7 separate regions of the Homo sapiens genome follow, and regions 2, 3, 4, 5, 6 and 7 are each linked to region 1. Evidence: fine-mapped expression QTL. A gene starts in region 1. Each other region holds a variant in brackets. All regions are shown on one strand. Distances are from middle to middle.

Region 1 (4,072 bases):
GGATTACAGGCATGAGCCACCCCGCCCGGCCAGGAACTCTTCTATTCTGGGAAACCAAGTGCTCAGATGAGAATTGGGGATTGTGTTAGAAAGGAGAGAATGGGGCCTGGCACAGTGGTTCGTGCCTGTAATCCCAGCACTTTGGGAGGCTGAGGTGGGCCAATCACCTGAGATCAGGTGTTTGAGACCAGCCTGGCCAACGTGGCGAAACCCGATCTCTACTAAAAATATAAAAATTAGCCAGGTGTGATGGCAGGTGCCTGTAATCCCAGCTACTTGGGAGGCTGAGATGAGAATCACTTGAACCCGAGGGCCAGAGGTTGCAGTGGGCCAAGATCACACCACTGCACTCCGGCCTGGGTGACAACAGCAAGACTCCATCTCAAAAATGAGAGAATGAGGCCAGGCGCAGTGGCTCACACCTGTAATCCCAGCATTTTGGGAGGCCAAGGCGGGCAGATCACGAGGTCAGGAGATCAAGACCGTCCTGGCTAACACGGTGAAACCCCGTCTCTACTAAAAATACAAAAAATTAGTTGGGCGTGGTGGCGGGCACCTGTAGTCCCAGCTACTTGGGAGGCTGAGGCAGGAGAATGGCATGAACCCGGGAGGCGGAGCTTGCAGTGAGCAGAGATCGCGCCACTGCACTCCAGCCTGGGCAACTGAGCGAGAATCTGTCTCAAAAAAAAAAAAAAAAAAAAAATGAGAGAATGGGTGTTGGGGTATAATCAGCAGATTATTTCACAGAAGCCAAATATATAAAGGGCTGTCATGAGGGGATCCATCTGTGTGGAGCTAAAGTCACAGCAGACATTTATCCATCCTCGGTTTTCACACCAAGGTCAGGCCCTGTGCTAGTACATGATGAGCTGTGGCCATAGTTACCTGAGGCTGGGCTCAGCCCATTAAAATAAAACTTCTTTTGGTACGATCTGTTTTGGGGTGGCCTGAGCTCTCCCCAGGGGGGTGAGGTGAGGAACTGTGGGGGCAGGTGTTCTGGGGTCATATAAGCCTCAGCGTCCATCCTTTCCAAGGTCCCAGTGGTGCTGACGACCTTGACGCCCCCAGGTTTGAGCCATTGACCTTCCTTTGGCTTGCAGGTGGCTCTGGTGAGGGGCTTCAGTTCCTCCTGAGCTTGGAGAGCTCACTGCCTGCTCCCTTGTGAGGACTGCTAGAAATGCCCGCCTTGTTCTGAGCTAGCATTGGCCTCCCCCAGCCACCTTCAGAGGTTTGCAGGCTGTTCTCAGCCTTTCTCGATCTCCTCACCTTTGAGCCACCTCCAAGGAGAAGCCTTCTCTGCCTTCCTCCTTTCTCCACCTGACCTCCCATGATAGTAGGTGTTTCCTTCTTTTAAACACTGAACACAGTGAATCCTGGTTTGTCCCTCGAACCAGACCAGAGCTTTCTGAGTGAGAAATTGTATCTTAGTCATTTCTGTTTCTGCTCTGGGCACAAGCTTGTGTCAATGTAGGTTCTCAGCCAATCCTGTCTGAATCCAACCCCCAGGTGATCCCCAACAACTCTCAAAATAATCTAAGATTTCTGTGACCCTAGTGCCAAGCTCACCTGCCTACAAGTGTCTGAATCTAGTTTACCTTCCCTGTCTCATCACTGCACCCATCTCTCCTGGACTCCTGCTGCAACCTTCCTCCCTGTCCAGTGAATTTCGCCCTCCTCCTCCCATCCCAGTCGCCACAATTGGCAAATATCAACCAAAAGGAAAAAAGATGGGAAACAAGTTTTTTTTTTTTTTTTTTTTTTTTTTTTTAAGGCGGAGTCTCACTCTGTTGCCCAGGCTGGAGTGCAGTGGTGTGATTTCGGCTCACTGCAACCTCCGCCTCCCGGGTTCAAGCGATGCTCCTGCCTCAGCCTTCTGAGTAGCTGAGACTACAGGCGCACACCACCACGCCAGGCTATTTTTTTTTTCTTTTTTATACAAGAGTTTTGCTCTGTCGCCCAGGCTGGAGTGCAATGGCGCTATCTCAGCTCACTGCAACCTCCGCCTCCTCGGTAAGAAAACTGTCATGACAGAGAGGTTAAGACTCTAGTCCAAGGTCTGTGCTAAAGCCAGCCCAGCGGACTGTCGGCAGAATGAACCAACGGGAAAGAGGTCAGAAGGAGCCAGATCCGCCAGTGCCAGCCCTCTCCAGGGCTCCCTGGGGACCCCCAGCGGGCAAGGGCTGCAGGCGGCCCAGGCTAAACGTGCAGTGAGTCCCGCTCTCAGAGGTATCTGCGCCCCGCCTGCCTCCGCCCCGCCCCTTGTTCTGGTTTGTCCAGTCCCACAGAGTCCCACAGTCTTCATGTAAATGAGGCACCCAGAGAGAGCCTATGCGAGCGTGGCAGGGGCGTGGCCTTCCACCTCCCGAGCATCGCTCTGATTCATTGTTAAAATAAAGAGGCCATGACCCTGGCACTCCCACCCCGGCAGCCCCTGTGCGTGGAAACCCAGCCAAGGTTAGCACTGGGCCTCAGAAAAGAGGAGCTGGTAGGGGGAGGCCTACAGGAGGGGTAGGGGTCGAGGGATCCGGGGAGGAACTGGCTGAATGCCTGGATGGAGAGGGTCCCGGGTCCATTCTCTGGGTGGGGCATGTGTAGCTGCTTAAGGTTTTGATTATTATATCCACATCTCAAGTGCATTTTAGAGAAGGATTCTGCCTATTGGTTGTGGGTAGGGGAGGAAACGGGAGCAGCGAGGGGCACGTGGAGTAGAGCCCCCTACCCACCCCCAGGAAAATGAGCGGCGTTCTCCTGCTAGGCGACGCTCCTTTATGTGGCCAGACCAGGAGAGAAACGCCCAGGACGGGCGGGGCCGATGCGCCCCTCTTCCACCACCAGGAGTCGGGAGGACGACCGCCCGGGGAGGATCAGAGACCCTGGGGCCACGGAAGGACCAGTGGGTAGCCCTCTCCCCACCGTGCCTTGCTGTCGCCCCCACCGCATTCCCTTCTCCAGGTCTGATGATGGAGGAGCCTTGGCCCTGGCTGTCCCAGGGGAGGAGGTGAAATTCCTCAGCTCTCCACCAAGATTGGCCACAAAAGCCTGATCCCCTGGAACACAGCAGGTGAGGATGGATGTGGGCAGGTGACCTGGGGGCACCAAAAGCTGCAGGTGTTTTGGGATGTTGGGTTCCTCCCACCCCCCACCCTCCCCCTGGGGCTCTGTGTGAGTGGGGAGGCCATCTTTAAGTGATTCTCCTGACCCAGCTCCACTCCAGGGCATGGATGTTGGTGGCCTTAGGGGCACCCAGAAAGGAGAACCCTTGCACAAGTAAGATACCAGGGCGGCCGGGCGCGGTGGCTCAAGCCTGTAATCCCAGCACTTTGGGAGGTCGAGGTGGGTGGATCACAAGGTCAGGAGTTCGAGACCAGCCTGGCCCATATGGTGAAACCTCGTCTCTACCAAAAATACAAAAAAATTATCCGGGCATGGTGGCACATGCCTGTAATCCCAGCTATTTGGGAGGCTGCGGCAGGAGAATTGCTTGAATCCGGGAGGCAGAGGTTGCAGTGAGCCGAGATCGCGCCACTGCACTCCAGCCTGGGTGATAGACCGAGATTCTGTCTCAAAAAAAAAAAAAAAAAAAGAAAGAAAGACACCAGGGTTTCAGAAGGGTATGATGCTTCACACCTGTAATCCCAGCACTTTGAGGGAAGGAGGAGGATTACTTGAGGTCAGGAGTTCAGGAGTTCAAAACCAGCCTGGGTAACACTGCAAGAGCCTTTTTTTTTTTTTTTTTTTTTTTTGAGACACACTGTTGCCCAGGCTGGAGTGCAGCGGGGCGATCTTAGCTCCACTGCAACCTCCACCTCCTGGGTTCAAGCAATTCTCTTGCCCCAGCCTCTTGAGTAGCTGGGATTACAGGCATGCGCACCACGCCCAGCTAATTTTTATAGTTTTAGTAGAGACAGGGTTTCATCATGTTGGGCAGGCTGGTCTTGAATTCCTGGCCTCAAGTGATCTGCCTGCCTCAGCCTCCCAAAGTGCTGGGATTATAGGCGTGAGCCACCGCACCTGGCCAAGAGCCCATTTTTACAAAATAAAAAAGAAAAAAATTAGCTGGGCGTGGTGGCGT
Region 2 (4,072 bases), 260 kb after region 1:
AGTGACGGGGTTCACCGTGTTAGCCAGGATGGTCTCGATCTCCTGCCTTGTGATCCGCCCGCCTCGGCCTCCCAAAGTGCTGGGATTACAGGTGTGAGCCACTGCGCCTGGCCTGTTTACTTAATTCTTTATATACCACAGAATTTATTCTCTTGCCTACAATCCTCTACGCACCTTTTGTTCTAATTATTGTCCACAACTAGTTGTCCAAACCTCTTTCTCCTCTATGCCTTTGCATGTTGCCTCCTTCCTCATTGGTTTGACAGCTCCTGCTCATCCTTCTAGGTGAGCTCAAGCCTCATCCCTGGAGTTTTCCTAACCCCCAGTGTGAGTGAGGTGTCCCCACCTCCTCGGGAACTCTGTTGCACCCTTCATAGCACCTGCTCTGTTTACTCTTGTCTCCCCTTTAGACCATTAATTGAGAGCAGAAATTCCTAGCTTTCTTTCTCAGCATCTGTTAACAATATCTGGCTCAGGACAAATGCTTAGTAAGTAATTGTTAAATATTCCTGCCTTCACCTTGACTTTTCTAGCCACTTGGCCCATTGGCTCAGCTCCCCTATCTGAAAGATGGGAAGACTATTCCTAGCTTCCTGCTTAGGGTAATTTTTTTGTGCCAGGACCTCTTTTACAGGACCAACATTCTGATACCACCCCATCTCCAGGCCCTCTGCTCTCTTCTGGATGAGGCAGTTAGCTCTGGAATCTCAGACCTCCATTACCAGGTCTGAGGCTTGGTCAGGTTAGCTGACTTTCCAAGCCTCTGAAATGAGAACTGTAATCCCTGCCTCATAAGGTTATTGTAAGGATTACATGAGTTGTTAGGAAGCAGTTATGTGGTCCCCTGGCATGCAGTAAGCATTAACGGTGGCTGTAGCGAGAATTGTGATTGTTGTCATTATCACTCTCCCTGTAACCCAAAAGTGCCACCTGAGTCTTTCCCTCTTTTTTGTCTTGGTGTCCAGGAAGGCCAGGAGAATGTCGAGATCCTCCCCTCTGGGGAGCGACCGCAGGCCAACCAGAAGCGAATCACCACACCATACATGACCAAGTACGAGCGAGCCCGCGTGCTGGGCACCCGAGCGCTCCAGATTGCGTGAGTGATTGCCCCTTCACTGTCTTCTCCATCTGTCAGGCCACAGTAAGCTCTTGTACCGCTGATCTTTCCCAGCCTGGCACCTGAAAACAGACTCTCTGCTCTCACATTCCAAAAGTGGTGCCGTCCCTGCGTACCAGGCATTGAGCTAGTCCCCTGCCCTCAGGGAGCTTGTGATCTAATAGGAGAACTAGGACATGAACATCTGAGAAGTCAAGTAACAATATGGGAGAAAAACGATAAAAAAAAAAAAACAGAACTAGATGGTTGCGTGTCAGATTAGTGCAGCAAAAAAGGTGAATTCAGAGCCAATGTGTACCAGTGTAGTTTTTTTTTTTTTTTTTTGAGATAGAGTCTCGCTGAGTCACCTAGGCTGGAGTGCAATGGCACAATCTCAGCTCACTGCAACCTCTGCCTCCCAGGTTCAAGTGATTCTCGTGCCTCAGCCTCCCAGGTAGCTGGAATTACAGGCATGTGCCACCATGCCTAACTAATTGTTGTGTTTTTAATAGAGACGGGGTCTCGCCATGTTGCCTAGGCT[A/G]GTCTCGAACGCCTAGCTTCAAGTGATCCACCTGCCTCTGCCTCCCAAAGTGTTGGGATTGCAGGTGAGAGCCACCGCGCCCGGCCATGGTGGTTCTTTGTTGTTTTATTTTCCGAGTCAAGATCTCAATCTGTTGCCCATGCTGGAGCACAGGGGCCTGATCATGGCCCATTGCAGCCTCAAACTCCTGGGCTCAAGCAATTTTCTTTTCTTTTTTTTTTTTTTTGACAGAGTCTTGCTCTGTCTCCCATGCTGGAGTGCACTGGCCCAATCTCAGCTCAGTACAACCCCTGCCTCCCGGGTTCAAGCGATTGTCCTGCCTCAGCCTCCCGCGTAGCTGGGACTACAGGCGTCCACCACCACACCTGGCTAATTTTTGTATTTTTTCTTTTTTCTTTGAGATGGAGTCTCGCTCTATCACCCAGCCTGGAGTGCAGTGGCGCGTTCTCCGCTCACTGCAAGTGCTGCCTCCTGGCTTCACGCCCTTCTCCTGCCTCAGCCTCCAGAGTAGCTGGGACTACAGGCGCCCGCCACCGTGCCCAGCTAGCTTTTTGTATTTTTAGTGGAGACGGGGTTTCACCATGTTAGCCAGGGTGGTTGGTCTCTTTCTCCTGACCTCATGATCCGCCCGCCTCGGCCTCCCAAAGTGTTGGGATTACAGACGTGAGCCACCGTGCCCGGCTATTTTTGTATTTTTAGTAGAGACGGGGTTTCACCATATTGGCCAGGCTGGTCTCAAACTCCTGACCTTGTGATCCACCCGCCTTGGCCTCCCAAAATGTTGGGATTACAGGCGTGAGCCACCGTGCCCGGCCGGTGCAATTTTCTTTTTTCTTTTTTTTTTTTTTTGAGATGGAGTCTCGCTCTGTCGCCCAAGCTGGAGTGCCGTGGCGTGATCTCGGTTCACTGCAATATCCACCTCCTAGGATCACGCCATTCTCCTGCCTCAGCCTCCCAAGCAGCTGGGACTACAGGTGCCCACCACAACGCCTGGCTAATTTTTTTGTATTTTTAGTGGAGATGGGGTTTCACGGTGTTAGTCAGGATGGTCTCCATCTCCTGACCTTGTGATCCACCTGCCTTGGCCTCCCAAAGTACTGGGAGTACAGGCATGAGCCACCGCGCCTGGCCGGCTCAAGCAATTTTCTTGTCTCAACCTCCCAAGTAGCTTCAAGCTGGGATTACAGGTATGTGCCACTATGCCTGGCTTTGTATTTTTTGTGGAGATAGGGGTCTTGCTATGTTGCCCAGGCTGGTCTTGAACTCAGCCTCAAGTGATTCTCCTGCCTCAGCTCCCAAAGTGCTGGAGCTGGGATTACAAGCATGAGCAACCATTCCTGGCTTTAAGGTGGTTCTTGATGTGAGGTAGACTATGGCCAGTCCAGCAGAGTGGGGGGCCCTCCAGCTTGAAAGCACGCTAGAGAGATGAAAGCACAGAGCAGTGGTGGGGTTTTGGGGATTTGAAAATCAGCAAACTTCCCTCCTCTCCCACATTTGGGAGAATAAAGATTCAGGAGATAGAGTAGACAGGTGGAGATGCGAGTGTCCAATGAGTGCAGATGTGTTAGCCATAGGCAGTGCAGGCCTTCAGATGCCTGCTAAGGTTTGGGGCAGACTGGAGAACAGACTGGAAGCACCCTCTGCCAACAGATGGCTTTGAGAAAGCAGGGACTTTCAAAGAGGCTGGGCCACAGATGCCTGCTTTTTTTCCCCCCAGGCTCACCTGTCAGAATAGTTCCTCCTCCTTTCTTTTGAGGAGTAGGTGAGGGGACAGAGCGGGGTACTCTAATGGTACTGTGGGGAAGCATGAGACTGAGAACAGGAGCCCCTACCCCAAACTCCCTATAGACTGATGTGGGAAATGGTGGGTATCTGGAGGAGCGGGGGTAGTTCAAGTAGGGAATAATGGAAATTAGCCTAGAAAGAAAAGCAGCTGGGTGCCGTGGCTCACAACTGTAATCCCAGCACTTTGGGAGGACGAGGCAGGTGGATTGCTTGAGCCCAGAAGTTCAAAATCAGCCTGGGCAACATGGTGAAACCCCATCTCTACAAAAAATACAAAAATTAGCTGAGTGTGGTGGCGTGCGCCTGTAGTCCCAGCTACTCGGGAGGCTGACGTGGGAGGATCACCTAAGGCCAGGAGGTTGAGGCTGCAGTGAACTGTGATCGCACTACTGCACACCAGCCTGAGTGACAGAGACTCCATCTCAAAACAAACAAACAAACAAACAAAAAAAAAACAAAGGAAAGCTGGGGCCAGATTTGTGGACTCTGTGTGCTTACAGGGGCAGCAAATGCTGTCTGTACATTCTCCTCCTTAGTGTTCAAGCAGCACTGGGCTGTTGCCTCCTCTAGTCCTGTAGGGGTAAAGATGACCATCATGTCTACTTCAATAAAGGGTTTTATGGGTGGACAACATTGTTCTCCCCCATTCC
Region 3 (4,000 bases), 770 kb before region 1:
CCTGCCTGTCCAGAGCTGACCAGGGAGATGGTGCTGGCCCAGGGGCTGCTCTCCATGGCCCTGCTGGCCCTGTGCTGGGAGCGCAGCCTGGCAGGGGCAGAAGGTGAGTCCCGTGGCTCCCACCCACTTCCCTGTCCCTGTCCTCACTGCTGCACCCTGGGGGAGGGCCGCAGCGTATCCTCAGGATCCTGCCCGCCAGCCCTCCTCCTGCTCCCCTCCCTCTGTCTCTCCCCCTGGCCTTCCCTGGGCCTCCCCCGCTTCCCTCCTCCTGCACATTCCTGCTCATCCTGTCTTGGAAAGTCCAGCTGAGCGTGTCTGGCTTCCTTGCCCACATTTCTCAGGGCGGCACTCCCGGCCCCTAGGCTCCAGGATGGCTGCTCTGGCCGTTTCCCTGCCCCTCCTTCCCCAGCAGACACTCTCTGTGCCTCAGTGGTTCCCACCTCCGGGACTTTGCTCCTGCAGGGCCTTGGCTGGGGTTCTCTCCCTGCTTCAGCCGCTAGCACCCTCCTTGTGCCTGAAGCCCGCACTGGGATGCTCCTGGGCTCTTGAGGTGAAATGGCCCCTCCCAAGGGCTCCCAGAGACCTGGCTTCTGTGATAATGCTGGGACCACAGTCCCCTTAACAAATACCAGGCTCCTGAGGACGGGGACTAGAGAGGAGGTGGGAGGTTGCAGGGTAGAACTCTGCCACGCTGCATCCCAGGGCTGAGTGTGTGCCCCCTCCCAGGCTGCACAGTCGGTCCAGGGGCCAGGCCTGTGCTTGATGCATGTCCCTGTCCTGGGGTGGGGGGAGGGGACCGTGCCCAGGAACAGCACACTGCGGAGGCCCAGAAACCATGCTGAGAACCAACAGAATGTCTTGCTTCTGCCAGGAGAGGAGGGTCCGCAACCAGGAGCCCACCCCGGCAGACATGAACACATGTACATGTGCCTGGCCACCTGGTGCCTCTGCAGGGACCTGGGAGACCCCTCCCCAGAGCGGGACATCCCAAAGCAGCTGGGGGTGATGGTGACAAGGGTCCCTGCAGGAAAGAGAGGTGACCCCCTTCTACCCCTCTTGTCAGAAACCATCCCGCTGCAGACCCTGCGCTGCTACAACGACTACACCAGCCACATCACCTGCAGGTGGGCAGACACCCAGGATGCCCAGCGGCTCGTCAACGTGACCCTCATTCGCCGGGTGAATGAGTGAGTGATGCTGGGGGCAGGGGCCACGGGCAGGGGCTACGACGTCCCCTGTGCCTGGCATGGGGCGACAGTGTAGAGAGGGACCTGTCAGGTCAGCCTCGGGGTGGGAGTGGACAGAGGACAGAGGAGGAGGGAGGCCCTGCAAGAGCTCCTGCTCCGCCAGGCACCTGCGAGGCCGGGTGCTGCCGTCTGACCTGGGGTTTCTGCGGAGTGCCTCCTACACTGATGTTGGTGACAATGGTGGTGGTGGCAATGGTGAAAATCTTCTCTTGTTTCATCACAATTTAACACAATTGCCCCACATGACCTATCTTAGTTCCTCCTCACTGTGAGGTGGGCAGGGCCAGGCCACGAAGCCCCAGCTGTGCCACTGCCTGCCTGTCCAGAGTAGACCAAGGAGAGATGGCGCTAGCCTGGGAGTTCACAGATGGGAAAACTGAGGCCCTGGAGGTGAGGTGCCAGCCCTGGCCACGGGGTAGACAGTGGCAGAGCAAGCTGTGTGGACGTGTCTGGGAGGGGGCTCCGCGCTCTCCCAGGCCCCCCCTCCGTATGTGGGCTGCCACCTCTCCCACCCAAGCTCTCCTGGGCACGTGCCACAAGGGAAGGGGACCAGAATCGCTCTGGGGTGTTGGCCAGGGTCTAAATCAGCCATAAATTAAGTAATTAAATAGCTGGAACCAGAGAGGCAGATGACAACCCATTGGAGGTCACCCCAGCGTTGGGGGGCGGGGCCGGCTCTGCCACCCCCACCCCTCCACCGCCTTCAGTTCTCCAGGGCGTCTCTGTCGGACCTTCTCCATTCTCCTCAAAGACCATCCTGCCCCTCCCTGTGACCTGCTTCCTGCTGCTCTGACACAACAGGGGACCAGGGAGAAGCTCCCCACCCACCCCACACTCACACTCCCCACCCCCTTTGCCCACCGCCGGGGCCTGGGCCTGGACCAGGGCTCCTGTCTGAGGCCTGAGACACGATGCTGTCTGGTCCTGTTGCTCAGGAACATCACGGCCCCCAAGTCCCCACTCTGCCCTGTGCCACCCACCATGCCCTCTCCCAGGATCTTTCCCAATTGCCTTGCAAACCTGCCCCAAC[C/T]CCCTCTCAGATGCCCACAGGAGTGCAGCGCCTGGGCATCTCCTGACCTGGCAACCCTGCGGCCCCTCTTTCTCTGCTTCCTTTGACAGCAGCATTCCCTAAAGAGTTGTCCACATTCACCACGTCCAGTGTCTTTCCAGCCATTTCCTCCTGGGCCCACTCCCCTAGGATGCTGCCCCCACCAGGCCACCCAAACTGCTCTGGTCCAAGTCAGCAAATGTCCCAGGGAGCAGGATCTCATGGTTGGGCCTCCGCCTTCTTCCTACTTGACCAGGGGCAGCCCCTGACAAGGAGGACCACCGCGGCCTCCCTGCAGTTTCTCTTGCACCTGACTCTGCCCACAGCTCACCCAGTGCCCCCGGGGCCCTGCCCATCCTCCTCTTTCTCCTTGTCTGCTGCCTCCTGATGGCAAGACACCCAGGCCCAGTCCATGGACCTCCTCTCTGCTGTATCCACTCTGCAGAGACCCCCTCAGGCCCCTGGGGCATCTCCCAAAGGTGACCTCAAGCCCACAATTCCCCTAAGCTCCAGCCCTCCAGGCGTACTGGCCTCTCCACCTGTCACTTAGACAACAGGTGTCTCCGACTCCAAACGTCCTCAACCAAAGTCCCGCTCTCACCCGAGCTGCGCTGCTGCCTCTGTCTTCCCCATCTCCCTTTCTAAATGGGAGCTCCTAGTGGCTCAAACTAAACAACAGGGAGGATTTTGTTTTGTTTTTAAGTCTCTTTTGTCACCATTCCTTCCTGACTGCTACATCCCTCCACCAGCAAATGCTGCCAACCTTATCTCAAGCAGAACATGAATCTCACCCACGCCAGCCTGACCACCCTGTTGCACGCCACTTCCTGTCACCTGAATATTCCAGAAGCCTCGTAACTGGGCTCCCTGCTTCCAACATTGCCACATTCCCACCTCAGTCTATTCGCAACCGAGGACCCTCAGGAATCCTTTCAAAGCATTTATCAAAATCTACAACACCTCTGCTCATGACTGTTTCCCACTCACTCGCAGTGAGATCCAATCCCATCATGTAGATGGATGGGTCTCCTAGACCTCCCTATCACACGCTCTACTCCCTGCGCACTGGTTTTAGGCCAAGCCACGCAGCACACCAAACTCTGCCTGTCCCAGGGCCTTTGCACGTGCTGTTCCCATTTCCTGAAATCCTCACAATTTGCACAGTCCCTCCCTCAATGCCTTTAACATTCTGCCCCCAGGTCACCTCCTTAGAGAAGCCTGCTTGTCCCATATTTCAAATTGCCTCCCTGGCCCAGCCCTTCCTCCCTCCTCACCTGCTTCTTGCTTTATTTTTCCACATGAAGTTCTCTCCACTGCACACGCTACACACTTTGTTCCATGCGGGTCCCCTTCTCCCAGGATGGCAGCTCCGTGGGCAGGATTTTTGTGTGTTTTATCACTGCTGGCCCCTGATTCTGAACAGAGCCAGGCATGTGGTGAGCACTCGAGGAACCTTTCGTGAGTCAGTGATACCCATACACCCTGGGCTAAGCCGTGTCCTCTCCCAACAGGGACCTCCTGGAGCCAGTGTCCTGTGACCTCAGTGATGACATGCCCTGGTCAGCCTGCCCCCATCCCCGCTGCGTGCCCAGGAGATGTGTCATTCCCTGCCAGAGTTTTGTCGTCACTGACGTTGACTACTTCTCATTCCAACCAGACAGGCCTCTGGGCACCCGGCTCACCGTCACTCTGACCCAGCATGGTG
Region 4 (4,072 bases), 48 kb after region 1:
AGGCGTGAGTCACCCAGCTGAGCCCAGAATTTCCTTTCGCTGCTCTTTGTGGTTAAGGCACCGAGGGTGAGCAGGCAAGCATGGTTATCTGAGTAGTGTGGTACCTTTAAGCCATGGGCAGGAATTACCTTGTCTAACTAAAGGTCACCAACACACAGCACGTCTGGCAGGAGGGGGCAGGTAAGTCCTTGGTAGAGCGAAGGAGGAGCGAAGCAGGGAAAGCACTCTGGGGTAATGATGCTGGCTAACCAGCACTTATTGTATGCCTACTACATGCCCAGCTCTGTGTTCACTGCATGGCGCCACCTAATTGCATTTGATCCACACTCCCAGGTGCAGTTAGACGCCTACTGTCCATTTTACAGATGATGAAGTGAAGCTCAGAGAGGGAGGGTCACTTGCTCCAGGTCACACAGGGAGCAAGGGGCAGAACTGAGATTCAGACCCTGCTCTGGCTGACCTCAGAGCCCAGTGCTTCCAACACGCCCCCTACACCACTGCCTTCACATCCTGATCTCTCTGAGCCCTCCTGCAGCTCTGGGAGTCCCCACAGATTTTCCCCATTAGAAAGATGCGGCAACCGAGGCTTGGTGAGGTTGGCTACAGTGGTTCTCTCATGTGGGAGTGAGGGAAATGAAGAGCTAGGGATGGAACTGCCAGCAGGGCCTCCCAGTTACACAGAGCAGATTTAAACTTCTCTTGGGCTGAAGCAGTGAAATTAGCCCAAGGCCAAGAGCCAGAAAGCCTGGAGTCGAGTTCTGGCTTGGCACCTAACTTGTGTGCCCTTCTCTGAGCCTTACCTTATTATTCTCAGTAGAGTAACGGTTTGAGACTGGATAACCTCGAAGTTTGGTAGCTCTGGTCTTTGCCAGTTTAATAACTCACCCCTGGGTCCCTGAGGCTGTGCTGTCTCTGACCTGCCAGGATGAGTTGTGGTTTCTTCATTGGTGCATTCATTCATTCGAGCCGTGCTTACGGAGGATGTGCTGTGGGCTTAGGCCCTAGGCTGGTTTCCAAGATGTAGACAAAAAACATTCCAGCCCTGGCCACTGGAGCCCAGTTAGGTAAGGACACTGACATGTAACTGATGAGAACAGTGTGGTCACCACTTTAGTGGGGAAAGGTACAGATGTAGGGAGCACTGGGCCAGCAGTTCCTAAGTCTGCTGGGGACACTTTGGCTTCCTTTGGTCTGAGACTTCAAGGAAGAAATTTTCCAGGCCAACAAGCATTGGGAGGGGGAAGGGGAGAAAGAGAGAGAGAATGTGTGTGTGTGTGTGTGTGTGTGTGTGTGTGTGTGTGTGTGTGCTGGGTGTGTGTGAGTGTGTGCTGGGTGTGTGTGTGTGTGTGTGCTGGGGTACAGAAGACAGGAAGAGAAGTGTTCCAGGCACAGCAGAGAACCATCAGGGGGTAGAAGGACCTGTCTTATCCTGGGAATTCCTAGTAGTCCAGTGCTGTGTATCTTTTTTTTTTTTTTTTTTTCTGAGATGGAGTCTCGCTCTGTTGCCTAGGCTGGAGTGGAATGCAGTGGTGTGATCTTCACTCACCGCAACCTACGCCTCCCAGGTTCCAGCGATTCTCCTGCCTCAGCCTCCCAAGTAGCTGGGATCACAGCCATGTGCCACCACGCCCGGCTAATTTTTTGTATTTTTACCAGAGACGGGGTTTCACCATGTTGGCCAGCCTAGTCTCGAACTCCTGACCTCAGGTGATCCACCCGCCTCGGCCTCCTAAAGTGCTGAGATTACAGGCATAAACCACCGCGCCCAGCCTCCAGTGCTGTGCATCTCTTTATTTACTTATTGTATTTTGCAAAATTGACCAAAGTATGTGTCTCTCCAGCCTGTC[A/G]AATGAGAATCTGGAAGGCCAGGATGACAGGCAGGAGCCAGGTTGTGATGGTTCCTGACTGCCTAGAAGAGGAATGTAGCACTGATCTGTCAGCATTGGTGATGTGTGGAAGAACTTTGAGCAGGGAAGTGGTCTGGTCACTGTGTTGCGGGTACTAGGAGGAGTCGCAGGGGCCAGAAAAGCCTGGAGGAGGCTGGTGCTGTTAGGTGCCCAGGGCACTGGACCAGGACCCTGGTGGTAGGTGAGGTCTCCTGCGTGTTCATTCACTCTCCCAAGGACTGACTGCCTGAGTGAGGTGCAAGGGTAGGGTGAGAAAACTCAGCCCGGGGTGCCAGAAGGCCAGTTTCTAGAGTTAGATGGACTTAACCTTGGCCTCATTCCTCATGGTGGAGAGACTCCTGGCAGCAAATGCTGGGAAAGAACTTCAGCTCCCTGGGCCTCCATTTCTTTATCTGCAAAATGGGAACAGTAATTATAAAAGCAATAATTTTTTTTTTTGAGAGGGAGTCTCGCTCCGTCTCCCAAGGTGGAGTGCAGTGGCACAATCTCTGCTCACTGTAACCTCTGCCTCCCGGGTTCAAGCGATTCTCCTGCCTCAGCCTTTTACATAGCTGGATTACAGGCGCCTGACACCACGCCCGGCTAATTTTTGTATTTTTAGTAGAGACGGGGTTTCACCATGTTGGCCAGTCTGCTCTTGAACTCCTGATCTCAATGATCCACCCACCTCAGCCTCCCAAAGTGTTGGGATTACAGACCTGAACCACCGCGCCCGGCAAGGGCAATAATTTTTGAACCCCAAATCAAGATGACAGAATAATTGAAATGCCAATTATTCCAAGCTTCCCTGCCTCCTTGCCTAAGGATAGCTAATGAGGGATAAAGAGGTTGTCCTAGGTGCCTTACTTGAATTAACACTTAATCCTTCCAGCAACCTCATGAGGTAACAGCATTACCCCATTTTACAGAGAGTGAAATTGAGCACCGAGAGGTGCCTTGCTTAAGGTAACACTAGGCTGGAATCCCCGTGCCACACGAACTTCCTAGTGCATTTAGCAACCAATTCCACCACGGTCCCTACTCACCTGCAGGAAAAGAGCATCTAACAAACGGCCCAGCGTTCTGGGAACCTGAGCAACGGGTGCACGCCCACACCTGAAAAACCCCAAACCAAAAAAGACCCATTTGTGAGGAGTGGGCATTTGGGAGAGACCCTGCCATCCAAGAACTCACTTTGTGTCCAGCTTACTCGCTAGGAATTCCGCCTCTTCCTGTGTGACCTCGGGCAAATCGGCTCACCCCTCTGAGCCTCCGTTTTCTCATTAGCAAAATAAGACCTCCCTCCCAAGTCTGTGGTGAGGACGAAAATCGACTCTTGGCGAGTGGGACCCGCTGAGTCGTTAGTACTGGGTGCTTTGCCCCGGTCCCCGCCAAATCACGGCGCCGAGCCCTAGCGGACCCATCGCTCCGGGGCCGGGTCGGGAAGCGCAGCCTGGGCGAGTCGTGCCCACGCCCGGCCGCCCGCATCCTCCGCCCCCGCGCCATTGCCGGAGTCACCTGCACCCTGGGCCCTTCCTTCCTCCCAGCGCGCCCGCGGCCCGGGCCCGCCCGCCCTCCGGCCGCCACCGCCCTCCCTTCCCTGCGGCCCCATCCGCCCACCCCGCCGTCCCGCCGTCCCGCCGCCCCGCCGCCCTAGCGCGCCCGTCCCGTTGCGGCAGGTCCCGCCCCCGGCCCGTCTCGCGCTTCCATTGGCCCGCCGCGGCCCCCGCCGCTGTTTGTCTCGGCTTCCCCGCCACCCATTGGCCCGCTCGGGTCCTCCCAGGAAGTTTGAAAAAAAAAAAAAAAAAGTTTTATGGGCGGATGGAAGGGGCCGGGGCAGCGTCGGGGAAAGGAAGGGCCGGAGGCGCGGCGGCGGGCGGCCGAGAGGGGCGGCGGCGGCGGCGGCGGCGGGGTTCCCGCGCCGCGGAGCCCGGCCCGAGAGCCGCGTCCACGTTCCTGCCTCCTGCTCCCGCCGCCCTGGGGCGCCGCCATGACGGTGAGTGCCCCAGTCAGCCGCCCGCGCCCGAGGCCGGGAGAAGGGCGACGACCCGAGGCAGAGCCCAGCCTCTCCCCTCCGGGGCAGCCCCCTCCTCATTTCCCGAAGGCGAGAGGAGGGCTGGGCCGGAAGACGGGGCCACCTCCGAAGCGCTTTCGGCCAGACCGGCCTCACCCTTCCCGCAGGCTCC
Region 5 (4,072 bases), 130 kb after region 1:
TCCCAAAGTGCTAGGATTACAGGTGTGAGCCGCTGCGCCTGGCCCATAACAAACTTTTTACAAAAGATAATGTGGGGGGAAAAAAAGAAAGAAAGAAAGAAAATGTGCGGGTCATGTCTCTGCTGTAGAATCTTAGTAGTTCCCCGTTGCTATCAGGTAAAGCCAGACTTTTTGGACAGGTACCTAAACCATCTGGGCTCCAGCTGGACTAAGGCTCTGGAAAGAGCTTCCGGAGAAGGATCTCAGGATTTGCAGAGCCTGAGGGAGGAGTCTCTGGAGTCTGCCGAAAGGAGACTCAAGTCCTGGTTTCCCACTCCAGGAAACCCCAGTCAAGACTAGGAATCCTTTTTTTTTTTTTTTTTTTTTTTTTTTTTGAGACGGAATCTCGCTCTGTCGCCCAGGCTGGAGTGCAGTGGCACGATCTTGGCTCACTGCAACCTCCAACCCCTGGCTTCAAGCAATTCTCTGCCTCAGCCTCCCGAGCAGCTGGGATTACAGGTGCCCGCCACCACACCCAGCTAATTTTTGTATTTTTAGTAGACATGGGGTTTCATCATCTTGGCCAGGCTGGTCTTGAACTCCTGACCTCATGATCCACCTGTCTTGGCCTCCCAAAGTGCTGGGATTACAGGCATGAGCCACCGCGCCCAGCCTCTTCTTTTTTTTTTTTTTTTTTTTTTTGAGACAATGTCTCACTCCATCACCTGGGCTGGAGTGCAGTGGCGTCATCTCGGCTCATTGCAACCTCCACCTCCCAGGTTCAAGCGATTCTCCTGCCTCAGCCTCCAGAGTAGCTGGGATTACAGGCGCCCGCCACGACGCTCAGTTAATTTTTGTATTTTTAGTAGAGACAAGGTTTCGCCACATTGGCCAGGCTGGTCTCGAATTCCTGGCCTCAAGTGATCTGCCTGCCTCAGCCTCCCAAAGTGCTGGGATTACAGACGTGAGCCACCATGCCCGGCCTAGGAACCTTTTCTAAACATGGATTGGAGCAAGAAGGTGCAGGGATAGGGGATGGAGTCACATCAGGCTGGGCCACAGGAGGTGGGAGTGCCAGAGACTGGCTGGGCCCTGGGCACAGAGGGGTTAACTACAAAGCAAATCACAGAGAGCGAGATCAATGGGTTACTGGCTGCAGAGAGAGGAAAAGGCAGCAGCAACGCAGAGAGGCAGAGAAGAGCCAGGCAGAAGAGCCTGCCACCTGGGGGAAATCAGGGACTGAGGAGGAAGTGGCCAGTGGCTACTCCAGAGGGAGTGCCCAACTCCGGCTCAGCAGAGGGGGCAGAGGAGAGGAGGGGCCTTAAAGGCAAAGGGGGAGAAGTAGAAGGCAGACCAGTACCTGCAGGGAGGCACCAAGGGGCAGCCGCTGAATCAGGAGGCCCACCCAGCCCGGCCATTCCACCCAGGATCAAGCCCACTGCCCAAGGCGGAGGTGGGTGTTGCCCATCCTGGGCTTTGGGGACCTACTGCATGCTGGGTGCTGGGATGGGGGCAGACATTGCCTTTCTTCCCTACTCCCTGCCTGACCCCCCTTTCCCCTACTTTGTCCCACCACCCCAGTGGTCTCAAGCCTGCAAGGAGATCCACAGGCAGTAGGAGACATGGGCTGTAGAGTGGGATGGGGGTGAGCATGGGTGCGGTGTGCACACACACAAGTTGTCAGAGGCACCACCTGTTACAAGCTCTCAGATGAGCACTCTAGCTTAAGAGGCAGGATACCAGGGTGGCAACAGCCCCAGAGCTGCCATTTCGAGTGTGATATTATCCTCCCATGTCCCCTCTCTGGGCCTCAATTTCCCTATGTGCAGAGAGGAAGCAGTGACCTACACGGTCTTCCCAGTTTTGCCATTGTGATGATCTCACTATACTGGACCCTCCAATGACTCAGGGATGTTACCCGTGTTTTGCTAAGGCTACAGCTTGTAGCCAGAGAAAGCCCTAAACCCATGTCCCAGGGTCTCCCCTGAGCTTCAGATCCCCATTGAGAAGGAAAACATACCAGTTTCTGGGTTTGGCCCCTCCCCCCATCGCCATATCTTCATCCTACTTCGCTTGTGCCTTCCCCAGCCTCGTGGGTTGAAAGTGTCCCTCAAATACCTAGGTAGTCCTCCAGGCAGGACTCCAGGGGTGTTCCTTAGGAAACTGAGGAACTCTCACCCCTTGAACACCACGAGCTTGCTCACACAGTGACACTCAGCGATGACTTTGGCTCTGCTCTCCCCTCCTCCATCTCCCACGAGCTTCCAGCCCAGAACACCTGGCCAGACCCAGGTCGGGGGAGTTAGATCCCGGGGTCAAGCAACCAGAACTGGGGGCTCTTGCCTGAGGATTCCAGCTTCTCTTCCCAGGTGCCCGTCTGATGGGGAGATGGCTGATGCCCAGAACATTTCACTGGACAGCCCAGGGAGTGTGGGGGCCGTGGCAGTGCCTGTGGTCTTTGCCCTAATCTTCCTGCTGGGCACAGTGGGCAATGGGCTGGTGCTGGCAGTGCTCCTGCAGCCTGGCCCGAGTGCCTGGCAGGAG[C/G]CTGGCAGCACCACGGACCTGTTCATCCTCAACCTGGCGGTGGCTGACCTCTGCTTCATCCTGTGCTGCGTGCCCTTCCAGGCCACCATCTACACGCTGGATGCCTGGCTCTTTGGGGCCCTCGTCTGCAAGGCCGTGCACCTGCTCATCTACCTCACCATGTACGCCAGCAGCTTTACGCTGGCTGCTGTCTCCGTGGACAGGTGCGCTGTGCCTGGGGCCTGGCTGGGCAGGGCTGTGGGGGCGGGGGTTGGGGGAGGAGTCCTGAACAGATCCTCACTGGCCTTAGGAAGGAGAGAGTGGGGGACCAGAAAGGGAGGTGGGTGGGAGGAAACAAAAGCTCCCTGACCCCTCGCAAGCAGCCTCTGGGCACCTGCAGGGCGTGCTTGAGGGGACTGTCCTGCCCTTCCCCTCCTCCACTGTGAACTTCCAGAGGACGCCTCTGAGTCTCAAGTGGCAGCACAGGGTCTGGCACATAGTAAGTGCTCTGTAAGCGCGAAATGAATCGCAAAAGAAGCTCACGAATGCGTTCATCAGTTTTTTTGTTTTGTTTTGTTTTGTTGTTTTTTTTTTTTGGATCTTGGCTCACTGCAACCTCTGCCTCCTGGGTTCCAGCGATTCTCCTGCCACAGCCTCCTGAGTAGCTGGGATTACAGGCCACCACACCTGGCTAATTTTTTGTATTTTTAGTAGAAACGGGGTTTTGCCATGTTGGACAGGCTGGTCTCGAACCCCTGACCTCAAGTGATCCGCCCGCCTCGGCCTCCCAAGTGCTGGGATTACAGGCGTGAGCCACCGCGCCCAGCCCAGCTATTTTCTAACTGCCCACACCTGGCCAAGCTGTGCACACATCTGCTTCCACAGCTTGAAACTTGGGGTCAAATCCAGGCTCACTCCAGCTGATGACCCTGGGCAAGTCACTTCTCTCTGGACCTCATCTGACGCATCCATAAAATAATCCTAGAAATAACAAGTCACCGGGATCGGGCCCTTGCTAGGTGCAAGGGCCTAAGCACCTTGCGCGTTCACACCCTTAATCCCCGCCACGTCCCCCACGGTTCACAGGAGGCGCACTGGGCCGCAGGGCCCGGGCGCGGGACGTGGCGCGGGCCCCTGCGGGAGGGCACCTGCCCGCCCCGCTGACCAGGCGCCCTCCGCAGGTACCTGGCCGTGCGGCACCCGCTGCGCTCGCGCGCCCTGCGCACGCCGCGTAACGCCCGCGCCGCAGTGGGGCTGGTGTGGCTGCTGGCGGCGCTCTTCTCGGCGCCCTACCTCAGCTACTACGGCACCGTGCGCTACGGCGCGCTGGAGCTCTGCGTGCCCGCCTGGGAGGACGCGCGCCGCCGCGCCCTGGACGTGGCCACCTTCGCTGCCGGCTACCTGCTGCCCGTGGCTGTGGTGAGCCTGGCCTACGGGCGCACGCTGCGCTTCCTGTGGGCCGCCGTGGGTCCCGCGGGCGCGGCGGCGGCCGAGGCGCGGCGGAGGGCGACGGGCCGCGCGGGGCGCGCCATGCTGGCGGTGGCCGCGCTCTACGCGCTCTGCTGGGGTC
Region 6 (4,058 bases), 390 kb after region 1:
CAGCAGCCTAGAGAAGGAGGGGGATGGAGACGAAGCATGGGGAAACTGAGGCACAGGGCTACCCACGTGAGGGTGGCTCAGGTCTGGGAACCAAAAGGGGAAACGGAGGTAGGACTCTCACCCCAAGTCTCCTTCTCCTGCAAAGGGCGCTGAAGGACGAGGGGAGGACGACGGGTCCCACCTGACTCTGCACCTCTGCAGGCTCCCTCTGAAGGACAACTGCTGGCCCCTCAGGGCCTCAGGTGGAAGGCGTCGGGAAGTGGAGCAGGTATGTGCCTGGAGGTGGGCGTCCAGCACCAAAGTCGCCCCGTACGCGTGAGGGTCTCGGGACAACAGAACAAACAGCAGAGGGGCAGATGCCGGCTGCAAAGGGCCGCTGTGCGTGATTTTCCTCTTTAGCCTTCCGCCATGTTCCTAATGTTTCTCAGTGATCACAAATGACTATTGTCATTAGAACATTAAGGGGACAAAAGCCACTTTCAACAGATATCAGCCAGGGGAGCTGAGTTCCCATGCATCTCAGCTCAGCCATGGATTCCCTCCCTGACTTGGGCCGGTCGCCTCCCCTCTCCCAACCTCCCTTTCCTCCGATGTAAGATGGGTGATTGATCACCCCGAGGCCAGCTGGGAATCTTGCGGGAGAGGAGTCAGGTCTCTGGCTTCTGCCAGACAGGTAGGAACCTTAGCAGCACTGAGAGAGTGGCCTTCTGCCCTCCAAACCTCAAACCCTCTATATGAAAAGAATGGCTCCAAAGCCTGTCTCATTCCTGGGGCTCCACCCGGGGCCCTCACAGCAGTTACAAGCGCCCCCATAACAGATGAGGAGGGTGTACTCAGAGACAGGTGCACCAGGAGCCGGGGGCTGGGGATAGCCTCCTGCCCTCCTGCCTGGAGTGTCCCTCCTGGCACTGGGCAGTGCCACCACCCCCAGGGTATCCGGGACTCTGCCCCTCCTCCACTAGGACCAGGTTGTGGCTTTTCCTGCCTGTTGTCCTCTTGTCACAGGGGCAGCCACTTGAAGGTGGAGACAGGAGGGTGATCCCAGGCAGCCCTCACATCACACTCACCTGAGCCTGCCTCGTGGGTTTGGGGGTCCAGCCTCACATCTCCTGAGGCCTGCAGGGAGGGGCCGCCGCCGCAGCTCCCGGTGAAGCTTACCCGGATGGGGGCTGCCAGACACCCCAGCTTCCCACCAGCCTGGGCTGAGCCTCTGGCCGACTCCCGCCTGACGCTCCCTGCCCCAGGCCTGGAGCTTAGAGTGTGTGCCCCCACCACACCTCACCCCTGCTAAGAGGCTTTTGTCCAGGAGGGGAGAAGAGACTGGGAGCCCCAGGCCAGGCTGGGCCTCGGCGGTGGGCTCCCTGTCCCAAGCCAGTCCAGGAGGGAGGAAGAGAATCCCTGTGCCTCCTGGAGCCTGGGGTGGTAGACACAGAGACCTTGCCCAGGGGGTCCTAGTCTGGTGCTGGGGGCACAGCCCTGCCCTGAAGAGACCCCAACGGTTCTAATCACCTCAGTGCCTCATCTGCCCCCGCCCCAACCCCCCGCCCCAGGCCACATTCCAGGAGGGGCTGGCAGCTTTCTCTAGAATGAAGCTAATCCACGCCTGTGCCTGGGAATGTGGGGGGGGGAGGGGCCAAAACAAAGGGTGCTGTGTCCAGGCCGCCTGAGGGCAGCTTGCTGGTGGTCCCAGCCCTTGGCCACTGCCACCTCTCCCCTGACCCGAGCAGCCGCTACTTCCTAGGAAACCCACAGGTCGAAATGAGAGCAGGTGGAGATGGGGGCTGCAGCGCGAGGGCTTTGGGGCAGCCCTAAAGAGTTCTCCAAACAAACAAACAAGGGGCTGGGAGTGAGATGGCTTCCCGGGGAACAGCCAGGACCTCAGTACCCCCTAGACCCCATTCTCCAATGGGGGAGTCTCTATCCCTCACCCCCTGCCCTGTCCCCCAAATAAGACACCACCAGTCCTGCTGCCGCATCACTTTGCGTCCACTTCCTTTATTTCTCATCATTTACAAAAGATGTACAGAGAGGGCATGTGTTGGGCACGGAGCAGGTACAAGGGGCTCCTCCCCACGGGGGCAGAAAAGGGGGAAAGAGGTTAGGGGGCAAGAGGTGGGCCCCCCAGGGAGAGTCCTGGAGCCCCTGGAGGGGGAGAAATTGTCCTGTCCCCCCATTCCGCCTGCTTTACTTTGAAGGTCTCGGACCCCAAGCCAGTGCTTTGGAGCTGCTCAGGCTGCCGGGGTGGTCTGGGGAGGGCAGCCACCCCCCGTCTCAGGGACCCGCTTCTTGGATCTGCTGCTGTTGCTGCTGTCGCTGCCATTGCCAGCTCTGAACAGCCCCTGGGCAGGTGCACTGTGGGGTACGACCTCGGACCCC[G/A]CCTCAGCGGATGAGGGGTGCTGAGCGGTCATTGGTGATGGTGGGACGAAGCTTGACAGTGGCAAAAGGATTTGTGCCCCTGTAGGAGGAGAGAGAGAATGGGGTGAGAAGGGCAGATGATCCCCACCTGGCCATGGCTCAGGAAGGCAGCTGGGCAACTGAGCTGGGTCCTGCCTCCTGCCCCTATTTGGTCTCCATCCACTCCTTGCCCCGCTTCATCTTTTTTTTTCTTTTAAGAGATAGGGTCTCACAGTGTTGCTCAAGCTGATGTTGAACTGTTGGAATCAAGAGATCCTCCTGCCCCAGTCTCCCTAGTAGCTGGGACTACAAGTGTGTGCCGCCGCACCTGCCACCCTCCTCACTGTTTGGGCCCCCATGTGAGGACTCACCTCGGGAAGAGCTCCTGTGGTGGGTACTGCTCTGAGGACATCAGTTTCTGCAGTGGGGGTGGGGAAGGGCTGGTTTGGTGGGGAGAGGGGCAAGCAATCCCTTGCTCCTCCCCTCCCTCTCCCCATGCCCAAGGGCAGAGGACTGGGCCAGAGAGCCCCTGCCATGCCAGGCTCCTGGAAAATGAGACCCTGACGTTCTGAAGCCCAGAATTCTGTGGGTTGCAGAAGTGAGAAACCCCTAGGCCAGAGCACCACCTCCAAGGACTAACCACGCCCCCAGGATAAGACCGGGGTGGCTCCATCGGAGATGCCCTCCCTGGCCTCCCCCAGCCCCGTCCTACTGGCTAGCCCCAGGCCACACCCTGTCCTGGGACCCTGGTCTTCCCCTTCAGCCCAGACTCAGCCCCACACCACCCCTCCCTGCACTGAGGAACAGACTGAGTGAGGCCAGGTAGGCGGGTCCCCTGCCAGACAGCCGGTGACAGAGCCTCGGGATCCCTGCTCTCCTGCCTCCCTGCCCGCTGGAGGCCCCAAGAGAGGGCGGGCAAGGGCTCACCTTGACGTCAGTGGCAACTGCTGTGCTGCCCATGCTGCTGCGGCGGCTGCTGGGCAAGGGTGGAGGTGCAGGGCTGGGGGCACGGCTTGGCACCCGGCTTGGGGTGCGGGAGCGGGACTGGCCATCCCAGTACTCCGAGGGTGCTATGGAGTTGCCCGGCCGGTCCAGGAGGTCATCGAGGCTGTGGCTGCCCCGGAGTGGGTAGGACCTAAGTCCAGAGAAAGGAGGGGGAAGGAAAGGGGTTGGGGCCTGTCCAATCCCTTGTCCTGCCAGTAGCTGGGGCACCTTAGGCAGGAGGCATCCGACAGCTTCCTCCCCGCACCTGCATGAAAGGAGACTGTTGACCGGAGGGAGGTCCTGAGAGGAGGCAGAGGGATGGACGCAGTGACCTTCAGGGCAGAGAGAGGGGCTCAGGGCCGGTGGTTCTCCAGGGGCTGAAGGGGGCTGGGCCCACTCAAGACTGCACCTTGCCACCTGGGTGCAGTGACTCACGCCTGTAATCCCAGCACTTTGGGAGACCGAGGTGGGTGGATCACCTGAGGTCAGGAGTTCAAGACCAGCCTGGCCAACATAGTGAAACCCTGTCTCTACTAAAAATACAAAAAGTAGCCAGGTGTGGTGGTGTGTGCCTGTAATCCCAGCTACTCAGGAGGCTCAGGCAGGAGAATCGCTTGAATGCAGGAGGCAGAGGTTGCAGTGAGCCAAGATGGCGCCACTGCACTCCAGCCTGGGTGACA
Region 7 (4,072 bases), 380 kb after region 1:
AGGGAGGGCAGGAAGGAAAAGAAAGGACTTGGAGGTGGCAGGAGTCCGAGCCCTGCTCCTTGTGGGCGCTCACACTGCCCCCGGAGCCTGCTGGGAGTGGGGCCAGCCGTGGACAGCTGAGGTTGGGGTCAATGCCTCCTGGGCACCCTTGCCTCGCCCCAGACCGGCCCGTCCAGTCCCCATCACACCTCGGCGGCCTTTATTTATTCTGTTCCCCCAGCTCGGCCACTTCTCTGAAGGAGGGCTGGGTTCTGGGCCTGTATCGAATAAACACAAACCTGGATGGCGCAGTGGTCGCAGTGGCTTCAGACCCTCCTTGTCTGCCCCTCCCCTCCACCGTCTATTGACAGCGCCCTTGCTATGCACCATTTATGCCTCACTGAAGTGTTGCAGGGCTAGCACTGTGGTCCCCTCACAGCTGGTGATTTGAGGCTCAGAGAAAGATCTTGCCCAAGGCCACGCCCTGTGTGGGGACACAGTGGGTTTTAACTCAGATCTGTCCTGAAGGCCTGACTTTGCCACCTGCCTCCAAAGCTTTCTGCTTTGTGGAACCTTTTGTATCTCACCCCCCGCCCCCTTCCCCCGCCCCCAATCTGTGACCTTTCTGTGCTTCCGACAGGAAATAAACCTCTGGGGGAGAGAAGGGCAGACATGGAGCCAGGGCGACTGAGCCCCCAAGTAGGGGAGGGTGGTGAGGGGTAAGTGCTGACTCCAGGCGCGCCTGTGCTGCCCGGGTGGTGGGGAAAGGCGTGTGGGGAGAGGTGCTCGGGGGCTGTGGGAAGAGGGGCGTGGGGAGAGGCCATGGGGAGTGTCTGCAGAGTGGCAGAAACAGGGTGGCCACTTCTCCTGCTTCTCCTGGCCAGCCTCGGCCTGGTGTAATCAGTCATAGTGGCCCTTGTCACTCTAACGTGTTCCTGTTTGGACGATGAATATGGCCATCCTGAGAATGCGAGGGGGCAACAGGGTGTGCGAGGTGGGCTGAGTCCAGGATGGAAAAAGGGTTTCTGCATCAGCTTTGAGCATGCATTGCTGGGCAGAAACCCAAATGGGAGGCTTGGCAGGGGTGGGACATGGAGGAGGGGCTGGCTGTCACCAGGAGCCCACCTGGGTCCCCGCAGAGCCATCAGACAGACCACACTGCCTCCCTGAAGGGGGCAGCCAGAGTGGAGGCCAAGAGCACAGGCTGGAACTGACAGCCTGGGTTCGTTCCTGACCTCCCTGGGCCTCAATTTCCCTATCTGAAGTGTGGCACCTACCTTATTGGCTTGTTAGGAGATTAAATGAACATCTGGAGAGGGCTTAGAACAGGGCTTGGCACAGAGCAAGCACTCTTAAATCTTAAATAAAGTCAGACGGGCCGGGAGCGGTGGCTCACGCCTGTAATCCCAGCACTTTGGGAGGCCAAGGCGGGCGGATCACGAGGTCAGGAGATCGAGACCATCCTGGCTAACACGGTGAAACCTCGTCTCCACTAAAAATACAAAAAATTAGCCAGGCGTGGTGGCGGGGGCCTGTAGTCCCAGCTGCTGGGGAGGCTGAGACAGGAGAATGGTGTGAACCTGGGAGGCAGAGCTTGCAGTGAGCCGAGATTGTGCCACTGCACTCCAGCCTGGGCAACAGAGCGAGACTCCATTTCAAAAAAATAAATAAAAAATAATAATAATAAAGTCAAACGCAGTCACTGCTCTAGTGGTGCAGGGGAAGCCACAGGCCATATAAGTAGAAGCCGGCCAGGCATCTGTGGGGCTCCCCAGACCTTCCTGGGGCCTAGATGGAAAATGAGGGCCAGCAGGGACCAGTGGGGAGGGGTCACTATGGGCCGGGCTGGAAGGTGAGGGGAGTTTGCGGAGGGAAGGCGGCTTCCTCTGCAGGGGCCTGTTCACCACGCTCATGATTCGGAGGGAGGCAAAGAAAGGAGGGGTGTGATGTATGGGAGGAGGATAAATGCATAGAGGGAATACATCGCGTCTTGCCAGATT[C/T]GTGCACCTGGATCCAAGTGCAGGAGGTCAGATGTCAAAGTGTGAGGGAGATCGTGGGACGCTCCGTGGGGAGAAGGCAGGTGCTGGGATCAGCAGATGACCTGGCTGCCAGCACAGTGTCCACAGCAAAAGCCCCTGGCCCTGGACACCCAAGTTTATCCTCTAGTGGGAGAGATGCCCTCTGGGAAGGTGAGGGGACATGGCCACCTCGTGGAAGGCAGCAGGGCCCATGGTGTTACTGAGCGCCTGGTCCCACCCTCCCCAGGACCCCAGGGGACGGAGTCGTATGCTCAGCCTCCAGTGAGCAAGGAAGTCAGCGGGGCTGGGATTCAAACCGACCCTGACCCTGGGAACTGTGAGTCTTCTCAGACCGCTCGGGCCCCCCGCCTGCAGGCAGACCCCAACCTTGAACCCTAGTTGCTGCCAACCCCTCGTTCCCTCCACGGGAAAAGGCAGATGCCAGCGAGGGGGCCTTCAGCAGACAGCTCTGAGCAGTGGGGCTGGGCAGGAGCCAGGCACTGTGCCCACCCAGCCCTGTGCCCCTGAGCCCTGTGCCCGCCCAGCCCCTTGTGTCTCTACACCTGGGAACGATGGGTCTCTTCATCCATCTCTGACGCTTCCTCCCAACACTGCCCACCTAGAAGCCTGCTTAGGGGGCCTGGAGAGAGACCTCCCAGACTCCCTCCCACCACCCTGACCCCCAACTCAGGTGGCAGCCGGAGCCTGGGCGGAGGAATAGAACCTTCTGTCGTTCAGCTGAGCTTTATCACCAGTTTCCTGTTGCTCCATAGCAGCTTCACTGGCGATGGGGCAGGGCCTGGCGGAACTTGGGGCACAGATGAGGGAGGCAGTTCCCAGACACCCAGGGGATCAACTGGAGCCCAGACGTGGACCCCGGGAGTGACCACCCCAGACCAGCCTCCCAGCGTACCAGGCTCTCTGAGACAAGAAGCTGTGTTCCCAAGTCACTGGGCCACCCCACCCAGAGCACCCTGAGTTATACAGACTCGGCAGCCAGCCTCGGCCTCGCCTCTATTTCTGGTTCTGTGGGCTCGCCCCGGGCGCTGAGCACCTCCAGGGCCTCCAGGTTGCCGGGTTCCTCTGCAACAACAGGCAGGGGCTCAGAGTCCCCTTCAGCCTCAGCGTCCTCAGTGTCACTGGCTCCGCCCTCAGTGCCTGGGCCTGACGGGGCAGCTTTAGCACAACGCAGGCAGCAGTTGGTGGCGACAGCCATGAAGACCCCAGCCAGGGCCACCTCAGAGCCGGCCAGGTAGAAGATGATCTCATAGTTCTTCAACACATCCACCAGGCGGCCTGGGGAGGAGGAGGAAGAGGAGGGAGAGGTAAGGTCCTGTGGGGTCCTCCCCTCACTCTCCTGCACTCTCAGGTCAAGGGTGGTGCCACTGACTTGGTGAGGCTCCTGGGTGACACACACATGCCCACTCTTTATTCCTGTTTTACAGATGTAAAACCTCATGTGGATTCTGCCATTTGAAACCTTAAAAATGTCACTTGCTGTCCCTGGACCTCAATTGCTTAAGTGATATGTGGCTTCTGGTGAGGCGTCCCCTCCACCCTCTGATTCAAGCCCCACAAGTGTCCTGTGACTTGCTTGGCAGTGGGGTATCTGGGGTGGGAGCGGGGAGGGGGCCCTGGGCTTAGCTCTGCCCTCCTGGGGGCCTCCACCTCTTGCTGTTGCCATGTAAATGCCCTGGTCCTCAGGGGCTTGGCTTAGTCCTCCCACCCCTCTGTCCCAGGAGGCCCATGAGCATCCCAGACCAAGCCATCATCGGCACAGGTGGGGCTTGTGGGCCAGTAACTCATTTCCTTCTCTATTTCTCAAGGCTTCTATCCCTTGTAGATACTACTTTCAAACTCAGGAAAGTCTCTCTTTTATTATGTTTTTTTTAGGGATGGGGTCTTGCTGTGTTGCCCAGGCTGGTCCTGAACTCCTGAGCTCAAGGGATCCTCCCGACTTGGCCTCTCAAAGTGCTGGGATTACAGGTGTGAACCACTGCACCTGGCTTCAGGAATTTTCTTATTCTTTTGAGACAGGGTCTCACTCCATTGGCCCAGGCTGGAATGTAGTGGTG

What was found. PIP is the estimated chance that this variant, and not a neighbour inherited with it, causes the effect.
Region 2: its variant is the best candidate, but not a certain one, in a credible set for the expression of TRIOBP in whole blood (Lepik 2017, PIP 0.59).
Region 3: its variant is the best candidate, but not a certain one, in a credible set for the expression of TRIOBP in gastroesophageal junction (GTEx, PIP 0.89).
Region 4: its variant is the best candidate, but not a certain one, in a credible set for the expression of TRIOBP in whole blood (TOPMed, PIP 0.56).
Region 5: its variant is the best candidate, but not a certain one, in a credible set for the expression of TRIOBP in whole blood (INTERVAL, PIP 0.67).
Region 6: its variant is the best candidate, but not a certain one, in a credible set for the expression of TRIOBP in whole blood (INTERVAL, PIP 0.84).
Region 7: its variant is the best candidate, but not a certain one, in a credible set for the expression of TRIOBP in NK cells (Schmiedel 2018, PIP 0.56).

The regions. Positions count from the first base shown.
Region 1 is chr22:37,694,636-37,698,707 of GRCh38, forward strand. It overlaps TRIOBP (TRIO and F-actin binding protein), which reads left to right and starts at 2,413. Exons shown (of 24, transcript NM_001039141.3): 1 at 2,413-2,454; 2 at 2,953-3,061.
Region 2 is chr22:37,958,381-37,962,452 of GRCh38, forward strand. It overlaps POLR2F (RNA polymerase II, I and III subunit F), which reads left to right. Exons shown (of 5, transcript NM_021974.5): 3 at 966-1,096. Among named protein-coding and RNA genes, the nearest start is that of POLR2F, 6.7 kb to the left of the region's middle. The variant A/G (reference allele first, on the strand shown) is at 1,638.
Region 3 is chr22:36,922,181-36,926,180 of GRCh38, forward strand. CSF2RB (colony stimulating factor 2 receptor subunit beta) reads left to right here. Exons shown (of 14, transcript NM_000395.3): 2 at 1-103; 3 at 1,064-1,187; 4 at 3,807-3,997. The coding sequence starts at 28. LOC105373023 (a long non-coding RNA gene) reads right to left here and starts at 3,763. Exons shown (of 2, transcript XR_938230.2): 1 at 3,570-3,763. RefSeq lists enhancers at 108-678, 3,324-4,000. The variant C/T (reference allele first, on the strand shown) is at 2,278.
Region 4 is chr22:37,742,539-37,746,610 of GRCh38, forward strand. All of the region lies in intron 11 of TRIOBP (TRIO and F-actin binding protein), which reads left to right. The region is part of intron 1 of LOC124905115; the gene reads right to left. LOC102724378 (a long non-coding RNA gene) reads right to left here and starts at 3,406. Exons shown (of 3, transcript NR_160697.1): 1 at 3,081-3,406; 2 at 2,933-3,002; 3 at 1,772-2,299. RefSeq lists silencers at 3,266-3,565, 3,906-4,072. The variant A/G (reference allele first, on the strand shown) is at 1,848.
Region 5 is chr22:37,821,040-37,825,111 of GRCh38, forward strand. GALR3 (galanin receptor 3) reads left to right here and starts at 2,343. Exons shown (of 2, transcript NM_003614.2): 1 at 2,343-2,726; 2 at 3,684-4,072. The coding sequence starts at 2,368. The variant C/G (reference allele first, on the strand shown) is at 2,524.
Region 6 is chr22:38,082,921-38,086,978 of GRCh38, forward strand. SLC16A8 (solute carrier family 16 member 8) reads right to left here and starts at 1,264. Exons shown (of 6, transcript NM_013356.3): 1 at 1,068-1,264; 2 at 122-441. It overlaps BAIAP2L2 (BAR/IMD domain containing adaptor protein 2 like 2), which reads right to left. Exons shown (of 14, transcript NM_025045.6): 12 at 3,322-3,529; 13 at 2,766-2,812; 14 at 1,980-2,455. The coding sequence ends at 2,380. RefSeq lists enhancers at 748-1,529, 3,090-3,869. The variant G/A (reference allele first, on the strand shown) is at 2,377.
Region 7 is chr22:38,075,412-38,079,483 of GRCh38, forward strand. PICK1 (protein interacting with PRKCA 1) reads left to right here. Exons shown (of 13, transcript NM_012407.4): 13 at 1-290. SLC16A8 (solute carrier family 16 member 8) reads right to left here. Exons shown (of 6, transcript NM_013356.3): 6 at 2,726-3,293. The coding sequence ends at 2,977. LOC105373027 (a long non-coding RNA gene) reads left to right here and starts at 3,230. Exons shown (of 3, transcript XR_938249.3): 1 at 3,230-3,322; 2 at 3,443-3,536. RefSeq lists an enhancer at 1-50. The variant C/T (reference allele first, on the strand shown) is at 1,980.